Linked DNA regions of Homo sapiens. The protein of the gene in region 1 interacts with the protein of each later gene in a pairwise test. Each region holds a gene or a part of one and is shown on either strand. Other genes may lie near its edges. The genes, in order: KRT20, WASHC1, ZC3H14 and PRC1.

Region 1 (3,498 bases):
AAATGCCTTTTCTTTTTCTTTTTTTTTTTGGGACGGAGTCTTGCTCTGTCGCCCAGGCTGGAGTGCAGTAATGTGATCGCAGCTCACTGCAACCTCTGCCTCCTGGGTTCAAGCGATTCTCCTGCCTCAACCTCCCAAGTAGCTGGGATTACAGGCACACACCACCATGCCCAGCTTATTTTTGTATCTTTAGTAGAGATGGGGTTTCACCATATTGGCCAGCTGGTCTCAACCTCCTGACCTCAAATGATCCTCCTGCCTTGGCCTCCCAAAGGACAAATGCCTTTTCTAAGGAGAAGCTTTAAGAGCTATCAAGTGGACCAACCATTGCTCTTTTCTTTCTGCCAGGACACTGGCATGTCCTAGGTAGGGCCTACCCCTTTAGCCTTGCCCTTGGAAAGGAAATGTCACGGTGGATGTAGTATCATGGCTGCAGGCCACTGTGGTTTGAGGGATTCTGCTTACCACAACATAATTTGTCATGGGCTTGCTGATTTGCTTGGCCTGGAATGTCTCTAGTCCATTCTCCATCTTAAAATTTTATCTTAGATTTTGAGATCTGGTATAATGGACACATACAGGGGAATAGCAGACATGGGGGCCTAACAGAGGGTGGAGGGTAGGAGGAGGGAGAGGATCAGGAAAAATAACCAATGGGTATTAGGTTTAATACCTGAGTGATGAAATAACCTGTACAACAAATCCCCATGACACAAGTTTAACTACATCATAAATCTGCACATGTACTCCTGAACTTAAAAGTTACAAGAAGATCTGGTTTAAATGCCACTTTCCCTGTGAAATCTTCCAGATTTACTCTTTCCTCTGCATTCATGCAGTACATTGCCCTTTCCTCGATTTCTCTCTGTCCTTTAATTATAATCAGTTGTTCGGCCTGTTTCCCTGCCAGTTCTGCAAGGGGAAGGGTTATTTCTTGTAGGTCTTTGCATTTCTATAGTTCCTAACAGAGGACCTTGGTAAACACATACTAGATTGAGAAAGAGAAGTTAGATATGCTTTACCATGCTGAGATGGGACTGGAGTTCTATCTCAAGGCTCTGGGAGGTGCGTCTCAGCTCCGTTAGTTGAACCTCAGTTCCTTTTAATTCTTCAGTATTCACTGTGACCTGTTGCTGCAGAACTGCAGTCTACAGTGCCAAGAGTGAAAAAAAAATAGTTGAGGGGTGGAAATAAGAAAGAAAAGACAGAAAGAGAAAGGAAGAATGAACAAATGAAAAAGAAAATGAGTTATCTGTTTCTGGAGGAAAGCATCTACACGTTTGCTCACCCTTTAGAATTGTGTGGTTACCTGTCTCTCAAACTGTTCTTTGGCCTCTTGAAGGTTCTTCTGGGCCATGACTTCATACTTCTGCCTCATTTCATTCATGATGACGCCAAGGTTCAGGCCTGGAGCAGCATCAACCTCCACATTGACAGTGTTGCCCAGATGCTTGTGTAGGCCATCGACTTCCTATGAAAGTGAAATTTCTGATTGATTTTAGTCTGAAGCACATTCTCAGATAAGGCTGGGCAGAAAAGACATAAGGAGTCTCATGACCTCTTTCATTGGGAATAAGTAAAAAAGATATAAAATAATAACTTGTGTTGGGCTTATTGTGGTCCAGGTGCTGCTCTAAGTCATTTAACTTACAACAACATTATGAAAAGAAGGTAGGGCTTGTATCATTATTGTCATCGTCATCATCTCTGTCACTATCACCACCAACTCTTCCCCCTTCTCCTGTTTCTCCCGCTCCTCCTATTATTAGTATTATATAGAACCATTCCATTGTTTCCAATACCACTTCTGAATATTTTCTCACCTCCTGATGCTCCTTTTTGAGGAGAGCTAGGTCTTTATTCAGTTCTTCAATTTGAATCTCCAAATCTGTTTTATGTAGGGTTAGGTCATCAAAGACCTTATTCAGGCCTTGGAGATCAGCTTCCACTGTTAGACGTATTCCTCTCTCAGTCTCATACCTGTGAATTAATTAGTGTACAGAGATAACTGGTCCTTCTGAAGCCATTATAAGGAGAGAATCTAATATAATGGGATAGGTTTTTAAATGTGGCTTATGAGGAGATCAATTTCAATACTTTATAATGTCTGCCTTTACACAATCATGAAATTTACATAAGAACCTAGGAGTCAGAAAATGTGCTCAATAATATAATCTCTATAATTTGGGGTGACTGGTAAAAAGGCAATCTGAAATAATTTTGAACACTTCTAAATTCTAGAATTTATCTTATAAGAAATTAAATTGTGTTAATTATTGTGTTGGCAAAGGGTTCTTATTATTGATATTAAATAATGGTTAGTTTTACTTAATGAATGTACATGATCGATTTATTTTTATTACTTTGTGAACAGAGACATCCAAAGTGAATTATCTCAAACAGCTCTACATCCTCCTCTACAATCTTACATACACACTGTGTGTGTGTGTGTGTGTGTGTGTGTGTGTGTGTATTTGAGACAGGGTCCCACTCTGTCACTCAGGCTGGAGTACAATGGTGTGATCATGGCTCACTGCAGCCTCAACCTTTGGGGCTCAAGCAATCCTCTCACCTCAGCCTCCCAAGTAGCTGGGACAGCAGATGTATGCCACCATGCCCAGCTAATTTTTTTTGTATTTTTGTATAGAGATGTGGTTTTGCCACGTTGCCCAAGCTGTTCTCAAACTCCAGGACTCAAGTGAGCCTCCTGCCTCAGCCTCTCAAAGTGCTGGGATTACAGGCGTTAGCCATCATGCATGCCCTGCCCAGTTTCCTAAAATATCCAACTTTAAAAAATGACACTGCAATGTGACACTCAGTGCTAGGTAAAATTGGAAGTAATGCACCTTTACTGCTTTCATCTTTGGATTTGATTTCCTATTTCCTTCTTGTTAATCCCTTGGAGCATTAAAAGGCTACCCTTCTAACCACAAAGGGCTTTTTGGTGTTAATGCATTGTACAAATTCAGGATGAAGAGGCCTTAGTGTGGAAGCTGTTTGCAAGGAACAGGTCTGGTCACATGTGGTGTGATGACTACAAAGAAAGTGAACACAATTTTTACTTTCTTTTTCTTTTCTTTCTTTCTTCCTTTTTTTTTTTGAGACAAGGTCTCAGTCTGTTGCCCAGGTTGCAGTGCAATGGCACGATCTCAGCTCACTGAAACCTCCGCCTCCCAGGTTCAAGCGATTCTCCTGCCTCAGCCTCCGGAGTAGCTGGGATTACAGACATACGGCATCACGCCCAGCTAATTATTATAGATTGGTCCTGGTTCTTTGGTTGGCCAGACCATCCTGTAAAACACTGGCAAGCCAGAAATCATCAAGAGTCACCCCTGGAACTTGGGTCATACACTTGCAGGCACTTGAATGAACGTGGAGAATTACTTGGAGAATCACCAAGGGTAGACACAAGACTCTCTTTAGATAACAGAAAGGCACTTAGGGAGAAGGAGAATTGTAAATTACTTTGTTATTACTCCAAAGGGCAGAATTAGGTTT
Region 2 (2,793 bases), on another chromosome or scaffold:
CAAACCCCTCCACCATCCCACACCCTCCTCCTGCCCTTCCTCATGAACCCCAGTCGCGCCTCTGCCTTCTCATCCCTGCGCACCACACAGGCTCGCTCGTGCCCGGTGAGTGCTGAGGCTGCTCTGCACGTGGAGTATGGCCCTGTGGGCAAGGGCTGGGCTCTTGGAGGTAGGGGAGCTACAGGGGCGACTGGGAGGAGGATGTTGTGTTACACACGCATCAGAGTTAACTTTGCAGTGAGAGCGGCCTTGCTGCGGCCAAAGAACATGGAAAAGCATGAGTGGGGTGATGTGCCTTAAAGCATCAGACACTTGGGCCTCGGGCATCAGGAGCCAGCCACAGGGATGTCTGGGGAAATGGCGTTCCATGAGATGCAAGCACACAAGAATGCACTTGGCACATCTGGGGAACAGCAGGCAGCTGATATCACTGGGCCCACCCCGCACCAGGGAGGATGGAAGCAGGTGAGGAGCTAGACCACACTGAGGCGGTGGTCGGGACTCGGGGTTTGCTCAGTGAGCCGTTCACTATGTGCAGGGGCAGTTCCCCGTCTGAATTTAGGTGACGACACTCAGGTCCAGCCTTGCCAGTCTCAGCCTCCGGTCTCCGTTCCCCCTCTGCAGAGGCCACATTGTCTGCTGCACGTGATCATGAGGGGTTGTGAAGTGCTTGCCCCATCAGTAGCCATGTGTGCATGTGTAAATACCATCCTCTGTGTGCCCTGGAGGCTGTCCTTCAGATAGCATGTACAGGTGGCAGCATAGGGCCTGTCCCTTCTGAGAGTGCAGGGAACTCAGCACCGTCAACTCCTCGACCCTGCAGGTCAGATTATCCTTGTAGAGGCCCCCTGGATGGCACCAAGATCGGCCCTGGCAAGTAGGTGACCCTGACTTCAGAGCCCTTGCCTGAGGGCCTGGCCTGGCAGCTCTGCTGTTAGAAGCAGGAGGTGTGCAGAGGGTGGGGAGCAGCCCAGCCTCTGTGATCTTCTCCATGGCAGGATCTCCCAGCAGGTAGAGCAGAGCCGGAGCCAGGTGCAGGCCATTGGAGAGAAGGTCTCCTTGGCCCAGGCCAAGATTGAGAAGATCAAGGGCAGCAAGAAGGCCATCAAGGTAGTCCCCATACCCCTGTGTCCTGAGGCTACTGGGCAGTCCCTCCATTTCCCCGTGCCTCTGAGGCTGCCCAGTCTCTGCCCTGCTGCCCACCTGTACCTTGAGCTTTCTTCTCGCCCAGGCTTCCAACTCCACCCTCTCCTGCCAAGCAATCCTAGCCCTCTGAGCCTCTTGGGGCCCCCTCAGACTTGTCCCTGTGTCCACAGGTGTTCTCCAGTGCCAAGTACCCTGCTCCAGGGCGCCTGCAGGAATATGGCTCCATCTTCACGGGCGCCCAGGACCCTGGCCTGCAGAGACGCCCCCGCCACAGGATCCAGAGCAAGCACCGCCCCCTGGACGAGCGGGCCCTGCAGGTCTGCTGGCCGCGCATATAGCCTGTCACACACCAGGAGGACTGGATACTGGGGAGGAGCCGGGGCCACCATAGGGTTCTGTCCCCCAGAGGAGGCTGACTGGGATGGGATGGCAGCTGATTAGGCCCAGCACCAAATATTCACCATCCCTTGGCCATCCTGGCCCTCTCAGGAGAAGCTGAAGGACTTTCCTGTGTGCGTGAGCACCAAGCCGGAGCCCGAGGACGATGCAGAAGAGGGACTTGGGGGTCTTCCCAGCAACATCAGCTCTGTCAGCTCCTTGCTGCTCTTCAACACCACCGAGAACCTGTATGGCCAGAGGGCAGGGCCGAGGGGTGTGGGCGGGAGGCCCGGCCTGGCTTAGTGGGGACCCAGGGCATCAGACACAGGTACAGCACATAGGCCAGGAGCCAGGGGGTGACTGGGGTGGCTCGGCTCGGGAGGCCTGGGACCCCACAGTGCACACTGTGCCCCTGATGATGTGGGAGAGGAACATGGGCTCAGGACAGCGGGTGTCAGCTTGCCTGACCCCCATGTCGCCTCCGTAGGTACAAGAAGTATGTCTTCCTGGACCCCCTGGCTGGTGCTGTAACAAAGACCCATGTGATGCTGGGGGCAGAGACAGAGGAGAAGCTGTTTGATGCCCCCTTGTCCATCAGCAAGAGAGAGCAGCTGGAACAGCAGGTGGGAGGGGTGGGACAGAGGTGGAGACAGGTGCAGTGGCCCAGGGCCTTGCCAGAGCTCCTCTCCAGTCAAGGCTGTTGGGCCCCTTATTCCACCCATGGGAGGTGCACACAAGGTCTTGTTGGCTGCCCCTGCAGGTCCCTGTCACCTCTCACATGTCCCTGCCTAATCTTGCAGGTCCCAGAGAACTACTTCTATGTGCCAGACCTGGGCCAGGTGCCTGAGATCCATGTTCCATCCTACCTGCCTGACCTGCCCGGCATTGCCAACGACCTCATGTACAGTGCCGACCTGGGCCCCGGCATTGCCCCCTCTGCCCCTGGCACCATTCCAGAACTGCCCACCTTCCACACTGAGGTAGCCGAGCCTCTCAAGGTAGGTGAGCTGGGTTCTGGGATGGGAGCTGGGCCGGGGACCTCCCTGCTCACACACCTTCTTCCCTAGACACCCCACACTTTGTGTTTCAGACCTACAAGATGGGGTACTAACACCACCCCCACCGCCCCCACCACCACCCCCAGCTCCTGAGGTGCTGGCCAGTGCACCCCCACTCCCACCCTCAACCGCGGCCCCTGTAGGCCAAGGCGCCAGGCAGGACGACAGCAGCAGCAGCGCATCTCCTTCAGGTGGGAGCAGCTCTTTGAGG
Region 3 (3,571 bases), on another chromosome or scaffold:
GAGTCTCTCTCCTTGTTTATTCCTGCTTGTTCCTTTACTGCTGACTTCAGATGTTCCTCCTTGCTAAGCTTTTCGTTGGTTCTTGGCTGGAGTGGGCTGTTCTGTATTCTCAGCACCTTGTTCACATCCCTTTTGGGTCATGCTATTCTGAAATTGTATATGTGTCTGTTTTTCTTTTTTTCTTTGTGTATCTAGCTCAGTTCTCTTAGTTGTTCAGTAAATACTCAGTGAATGAACATAAATGAATACCCTGTAAATTTTGGTCTCTAAGCTTTAAAAGAAGTGTATTAACTTCAGTCCGTTGATGGCGTATTGATAGGTCAGCCATTCTGGGTTGTAGGTCTTGGCATATTTTATAAAATAGTAGATGATGTGAGCTTATGGTTATTTGCATTAAAGGCCAGTGTTTTTCTTGATACATATGTTTAAGTGTCCATTCACCTTTCAGTTACCTTTTAAAGTAGTCCTCGGTTTATAACCAACTGGAAATTATACCACTTGAATTCTTTTTATCAGGACATGATTCTAAGTGGTACTGTGCGAAGTGAACAAACCAGATTTTGGAAAAGTGGTTCAGCAGTCTGTGTATTCTAATTATAGGGAGCATTAGGACTCAAATTCTCCAGGTTTTTAGAAAAGATTTTTGTACTTTAAGGGTATATTGTTAATATCTGTTGAGATGCCTCACCTGAGAACCTTTCTCTGCTGTGGTTAGGGAGTGTTAATCAGAATCACTTGTGCCGTGCCCTACGCGAGAAGGACTCCTTGAGTTCTTTGAAAACATGTTTGGAATAGAATTATAGCCCTGTTTTCCTGAGTGGAACCAGTTGTGATTTTCCTTTGAAATAATTTGAATATATAAAAGATTGACATTCTTCTCACATATATAATGTTGGGAATGTAAGGTATATTCAAAAGTAAACATTTGTGGCCAATTTTTTTGGCTCAGATTACTATGACATGGAATCCATGGTCCATGCAGACACAAGATCATTTATTCTGAAGAAGCCAAAGCTGTCTGAGGAAGTAGTAGTGGCACCAAACCAAGAGTCGGGGATGAAGACTGCAGATTCCCTTCGGGTACTTTCAGGACACCTTATGCAGACACGGTAGATGGTTTCTTTTTCTTGTGTAGTTAATTTGTGTGATTAGATAGTAAAGGTTAACCATTCGTTTGCAGCTTCCCTCCTCCCCGCCCTAACCGCTAGCGTAGAGTGCTTTCATTGATTCAGTAGCTAGCCCATGAATAGTTAGCCAAATTCAGTTTTCAAGAATTCCAGTTCATCTTTCTTGTTCAGAAATCCATTAACCTACAAATTACAACTCAGTGTATGATTTAACTCTATTAAAGATTCTTTTCTTTATGCAAATTCAGGAAATGCAAGTTTAAAAGCCAGCTGACCATAATCAGGTCAGCTCTAAAGAGAGTTGGCAGATCAGGTTTGGGTGATTTTTCCCTTAGAAAATTGACTGTTTCTATAAAAGAAGAAACATACAGATAATTAGCATAAATGCTGCTGGCCCTTGTGTTCTGAGCATTGATGCTAATTTTTTGGTTTGTTTCCATGTTGACCCTATGAAGATCGAATGGGTGATGGGGTCAGGCTTGAGGGGAGATTGTCCTTAGTAAGTACAGGCTGGAGGGTCACTGGTGATGCCACTGTGACTGTTCATGGCCATCGTGTGTTAGCAGAGAACCCACCAGTGCTGCACCTGGTAGCCCTACCTAGTCTTTTTTTATTGAACCAAACGCAAAGCCAAGGGAGTGATAGTTCTGCTGAAGAGCACTTTAGGGGGCTCAGCGTTTTGTGTTTGTTTCCCTAATTCTATGGTATTTTTTATCTGTCTGGCAGAGATCTTGTACAACCAGATAAACCTGCAAGTCCCAAGTTTATAGTGACGCTGGATGGTGTCCCCAGCCCCCCAGGATACATGTCAGATCAAGAGGAGGACATGTGCTTTGAAGGAATGAAACCCGTAAACCAAACTGCAGCCTCAAACAAGGGACTCAGAGGTCTCCTCCACCCACAGCAGTTGCACTTGCTGAGCAGGCAGCTTGAGGACCCAAATGGTAGCTTTTCTAACGGTGTGTTGAGAGCTCAGATTTTCAGGGTGCTGTCATTGTGAAGGGAATCTTTGACTTGTTTCTCTACCTTGAATGAATATTGGTTAAAGGCCTTGCTTTTATTTATATTCAGTAATGGCCTTTTTTCTTCTTTCAGACAAACCCACCAAGTACATTTCAGACTCTTTTTCCTGTGTCTTTTTCATAGGTGGGCTGTTACTCCAGTTTGAAAACGGAGTTCAGCCATGGAACCTGAGAGACCTCTTCCGCTTATGCTGGCTAAAGGATGAACCACCATTCTTGTTGCCTTCTTTACCTTTGTATTTTCTTCAGAAACTGTACTGCCACTTTGCCCTTTTATCAGCAATAGTCTCTTGCAATTAACTTGAGAGAAAAATTTAGATTTGATGCTATTTCTACCTCAGTGAAATTTCTTTGAAAGGAGTTTCTCACCTAATCTATCAAGATCTTGGAACTGTTTAAATTAATGTTGAAGAGTAATATTTAGCAGAACTCAGATGAACTCATTTCAGATAGCACCATAGTTTTTGGCAGGTGACAGTTTCTTATCACCGTTTCTTTCACTGGGTATCAGTGGTAGCTGCAACGCCACTGATCATTTCCATTCATGATAGAGAATGGTAATTATGTTCCTTATATCTTCTAAAATATTTAGAAGCACCTCTTCATTGGCAGGAGGGATAATTACTCAATCTTAAAAGCGTACAGATTCAAAGGAAAAACAGTAATGGATTTTGAAACATTTCCTTGAGTAATCCTCTTCTTGGAAGAGATATGAAAATGTATTGAATACCTTTCTCGATCATTAAAAATAGAATAGACTTCAGAGGGAAATCATATGTTAGTGGAGCAATAACACTTAGCTTTATTTTAATTGGTTGCGTTTCCTACTGTGAATCAATGACGTAGTGTCGTGGTTTTGATTAGTGGAGGGAGTTGAAAATCTGACCCTATCAACAGGAAGAAAAACTTAAAAAATAGTAAAAGCTGCAGTAGGCAGTCCCGATTTATTGACTCTGTATGTTTTGTCTAAAGAGAAGACTCCAGTGTTTTCACTACTCTTGATTTTCAATTTGGTACCTTAATTTTTTGGTCTATTAGGATCTGGTTTCATTTAAATGTAGGTGTCCATATGAGGCTTTATGGGGTATACATGTAGCAGCAGTGACACCATAAATAATATGTTAGTAAAAATTCTTGCCAGTGCTGTGGCCATTGTGCTGACAGCCATGATGAGTGGTGAGCCTCCTTTCCCATTGCTTTGACTGGGGACTCAGTGTTTCCCTGCTGCTCAAGGATGAAGCTTTGTAAGATTAGCATAGGGGTGTGGCTGGAGAGACTCCTGCAGAACAGTTCTCAGGAGTCTCTAGTCTCTGCACCACTTCCCCTGTGAGCAGGGAGTTTGAAACTGCAATTGCTTCTGGTTGGTTTTATGTTGGGTTGTTTCAAGGATGCTACCAACAACAACATCTGTTTTAACCTGCT
Region 4 (3,571 bases), on another chromosome or scaffold:
TAGTTTTTAATTTGAAAATGATCCTCTTACAGGAAGTGTCTCTAACTAGAATAATAATAATGGGTGTTTGGTAATTCCAAACACCCATTTCCAACAGGCCAAATAAAATACGTTATATATTAGTAAAATTTTTATTTCTTTTTTTTTTTGGAGACAGTCTTGCTCTGTTGCCCAGGCTGGAGTGCAATGGCATGATCTCAGCTCACTGCAACCTCCGCCTCCTGGGTTCACCGGGTTCAAGTGATTCTCCTGCCTCAGCCTCCTGAGTATCTGGGATTACAGGCACCCACTACCACGCCCAGCTAATTTTTGTATTTCTAGTAGAGATGGGGTTTCACCATGTTGGCCAGGCTGGTCTCGAGCTCCTGATCTCAGGTGATCCGCCCGCCTTGGCCTCCCAAAGTGCTGGGATTGCACACGAGCCACCGCGCCCGGCCATAGTAAAAATCTGTAAGTTTTTCAATTAAGTCACAAATCAAAAACATTTCAGATTATGGGCCGGGCACAGTGGCTCACGCCTGTAATCCCAGCACTTTGGGAGGCCGAGGCGGTCGGATCACGAGGTCAGGAGTTTGAGACCAGCCTGACCAACATGGTGAAACCCCGTCTCTACTAAAAATACAAAAATTAGCCGGGCGTGGTGCCGTGTGCCTGTAGTCCCAGCTACTCAGGAGGCTGAGGCAGGAGAATCGCTTGATCCCAGAAGGCAGAGGTTGCAGTGAGCTGAGATCACACCATTGCACTCCGGCCTGGGTGCCAGACTGAGACTCTGTCTCAAAAAAAGAAAAAAAAAAGAAACCAAAAATGTTTTAGATTATGTGCCAAGATGTTTTTAATAACAGCTTTGAGGTATAATCCACATACCATACAATGTACTTAAATTGTATATTATAATTCAGTGATTTTTAGAATATTCAGAGTTGTGCAATCATCACTGCAATCAATTTTAGAACATTTTTATCACCCCTTTAAAATCCCATTAGCAGTCAATCCCCTTTCACCCCATGGTCCAAATTCTCCCCAGCCGCAACTACAAATCTACTTTTCGGCTAGGCAAGGTGGCGCACACCTATAATTCCAGCACTTTGGGAGCCCAAGGTGGGAGGACTACTTGAGCCCAGGAGTTCAAGAACAGCTTGGGCAACATAGAGAGACTCTACCTCTTAAAAAAAAAAAAAAAATTATTTATTTATTTATTTATTTATTTTATTTTTTATTTTATTTTATTTTATTTTTTGAGATGGAGTCTCACTCTGTCACCCAGGCTGGAGTGCAGTGACGTGATCTCAGGTCACTGCAACCTCCACCTCCCGGATTCAAGCAATTCTCCTGCCTCAGCCTCCCGAGTAGCTGAGATTACAGGTGCCCACCACCACACCCAGCTAATTTTTGTATTTTTAGTAGAGACGGGGTTTCACCATATTGGCCAGGCTGGTCTCAAACTCCTGACCTCGTGATCCGCCGGTCTTGGCACCCAAAGTGCTGGGATTACAGGAGTGATCCACCGCACCCGGCCTAAAAAAAAATTTTATTGTTTAAGTTAGCTGGGTGTGGTGGCTCACATCTGTAGTCCCAGCTACTCCGGAGGCTCAGGTGGGAGGATCACCTGAGCCTAGGAAGTTGGGGCTGCAGTGAGCCATGATCATGTTACTGCACTCCAGCCTAGGTGAAAGAGGGAGACCCTGTCTCAAAAAACCATACAAACCCCAAATCTACTTTTTACCTATTCTGGATATTTCATAAAAACGGAACCGTAGCTCTGGTCTTTTGTGACTTGCTTCTTTGACTTAACATAATGTTTTCAAGGTTTATTGCCAAATAATATTCCATTGTATGCCTATATACTACATTTTATTTACCCATTCATAAGTTGATGGCCATTTGTATTTTTTTTTTCACTTTTTGGCTATTATAAGTAATGCTGCTATAAACAGTTGTGTAGTTTTTGTATAAATGTGTTTTCATTTCTTTTGGGCAAATACCCAGTAATAAAATTGCTGAGTTGTATGAACTCTGTTAAACTGAGGGGCCGGGTGCAGTGGCTCATGTCTGTTATCCCAACACTTTGGGAGGCCGAGGTGGGAGGATTGCTTGGGCCCAGGAGTTCAAGACCAGCCTGAGCAACATGGCAAACCTTAAAAAAAAAAAAAAAAAAAAAAATTAGCCAAGCACGATGGCACGTCTATGGTCCCAGCTACTTGGGAGACTAAGGTAGGAGAATTGCTTGAGCCCAGGGCGTTGAGGCTGCGTTGAGCTATGATCACACCACTGCACTCCAGCCCAGGTGACAGTGAGGCCCTGTCTCAAAAAACAAAAAATCAATTGAGGAACTACCAGACTATTTTCCAAAGAGGCTGTACCGTCTTGCATGCCCACAAGCAGTGTCTGAGGGTTCTAGTTCCTCTAGATTCTCACCAATACTTTTTGCTATATATTTTTTTTTATTATACCATCCTGTTGGCTATGAAGTGGTTTTGATTTGCATTTCCCTAATGACTAATATTGAGCATCTTTTCATGTGCTTATTGGCCATTTTTATATCTTCTTTGGAGAAATGTCTATTCAGATTCTTTGCCCATTGTGCTAGATTTTTTTACTCAGAAAAACGATCACTTTACCTTCTAGATGTGTTACAGAGATAGGCAGCCCTGCTTGTAAACCTTCGTCAGGATCCAGAGTGCATAATACCTCTATTAGGTTAGGTAGGTTAGGAGCATAGGACCCTTTGGGAGGAATTCAGGGCCATTCATTTTATATCTATTGAACAACTACTGTGAGTTAGGGTGTGGTAAAATGAAGATGAATAAGATGTGGTGGTCCTTGCCCTTGAGTTTATGGTCTACTAGGGGGCTTGGGGGGAATGGTGAGTGACAAGTCCACAGCTCTCCAGAGGAGGTGGTGGCATATAGACGGAACTGAATGTACAAAGCGCGGTGGCATCAGAAAATGAGAGTTGCATGTGGTTTATTGAGGGGCATTGTTCAGGAAATGCCCGGGAAGTTCAGCTGGCCAGAGACCTGGGGAGTGTCAAGTGGGAGAGATTAGCAGACAGACTCGGAGAGAGGTTTTAGAAGGCCTTTCTACAGAAGGTGGTTGAACTATTTCCTGAGGGCAGTGGAGCCTTTGAAGGGGAGTAGTTAAGCGGGGATCTGATGGGATTTATTATGAACAACTAGCTGTTATGTGGAGATTGGCTGGGCAGGGGTAGGTCTGTCAGACTGAGGAGACTGGGATACTTAAGTAATGACCTTCAGAGCAGTGCCCCTGGCTGGCCTGTCTGGAAGCCAGGGTTTTGCATCCAGATCGAATATTGGCCACAGATTGGATCTTAAAAGTTATTTTTAATAAAATGGTAATATTAGGATTTTAACTTGTGCATTCTTTTGTCTTCAAAATGAAGTGCAAAAGGAGTGTTTGCCTGGGGAAGCTCTTTAGTTGGACTTTAGTTGAGATTATGTTAAATAAATGCCTTACTTACTGTTAACATTTCTCTTTTTTTCCTTTAAGTTCTGTTGGACTTGAACTGTTAACATTTCTAAAGTGAAGGGAGTACCGTAAATTCTTTTAAACG

What was found.
Region 2: the proteins of KRT20 (region 1) and WASHC1 interact in a two-hybrid assay, tested with the Homo sapiens proteins (one large-scale study listed by BioGRID).
Region 3: the proteins of KRT20 (region 1) and ZC3H14 interact in a two-hybrid assay, tested with the Homo sapiens proteins (one large-scale study listed by BioGRID and IntAct).
Region 4: the proteins of KRT20 (region 1) and PRC1 interact in a two-hybrid assay, tested with the Homo sapiens proteins (one large-scale study listed by BioGRID and IntAct).

Annotation. Positions count from the first base shown.
Region 1 is NC_000017.11:40,878,791-40,882,288, forward strand, and holds part of KRT20 (keratin, type I cytoskeletal 20 precursor), read right to left. Parts: intron 1,981-3,498; coding exon 1,824-1,980; intron 1,472-1,823; coding exon 1,310-1,471; intron 1,149-1,309; coding exon 1,023-1,148; intron 1-1,022. UniProt on the Homo sapiens protein: Plays a significant role in maintaining keratin filament organization in intestinal epithelia. When phosphorylated, plays a role in the secretion of mucin in the small intestine.
Region 2 is NC_000009.12:16,698-19,490, reverse strand, and holds part of WASHC1 (WASH complex subunit 1), read left to right. Parts: exon of another isoform or gene 1-345; coding exon of another isoform or gene 346-465; intron 466-998; coding exon 999-1,110; intron 1,111-1,316; coding exon 1,317-1,463; intron 1,464-1,635; coding exon 1,636-1,772; intron 1,773-2,011; coding exon 2,012-2,147; intron 2,148-2,324; coding exon 2,325-2,526; intron 2,527-2,614; coding exon 2,615-2,773; intron 2,774-2,793. UniProt on the Homo sapiens protein: Acts as a component of the WASH core complex that functions as a nucleation-promoting factor (NPF) at the surface of endosomes, where it recruits and activates the Arp2/3 complex to induce actin polymerization, playing a key role in the fission of tubules that serve as transport intermediates during endosome sorting.
Region 3 is NC_000014.9:88,600,975-88,604,545, forward strand, and holds part of ZC3H14 (zinc finger CCCH domain-containing protein 14), read left to right. Parts: intron 1-949; coding exon 950-1,109; intron 1,110-1,853; coding exon 1,854-2,086; intron 2,087-3,571. UniProt on the Homo sapiens protein: RNA-binding protein involved in the biogenesis of circular RNAs (circRNAs), which are produced by back-splicing circularization of pre-mRNAs.
Region 4 is NC_000015.10:90,988,002-90,991,572, reverse strand, and holds part of PRC1 (protein regulator of cytokinesis 1), read left to right. Parts: intron 1-2,948; exon of another isoform or gene 2,949-3,571. UniProt on the Homo sapiens protein: Key regulator of cytokinesis that cross-links antiparrallel microtubules at an average distance of 35 nM. Essential for controlling the spatiotemporal formation of the midzone and successful cytokinesis.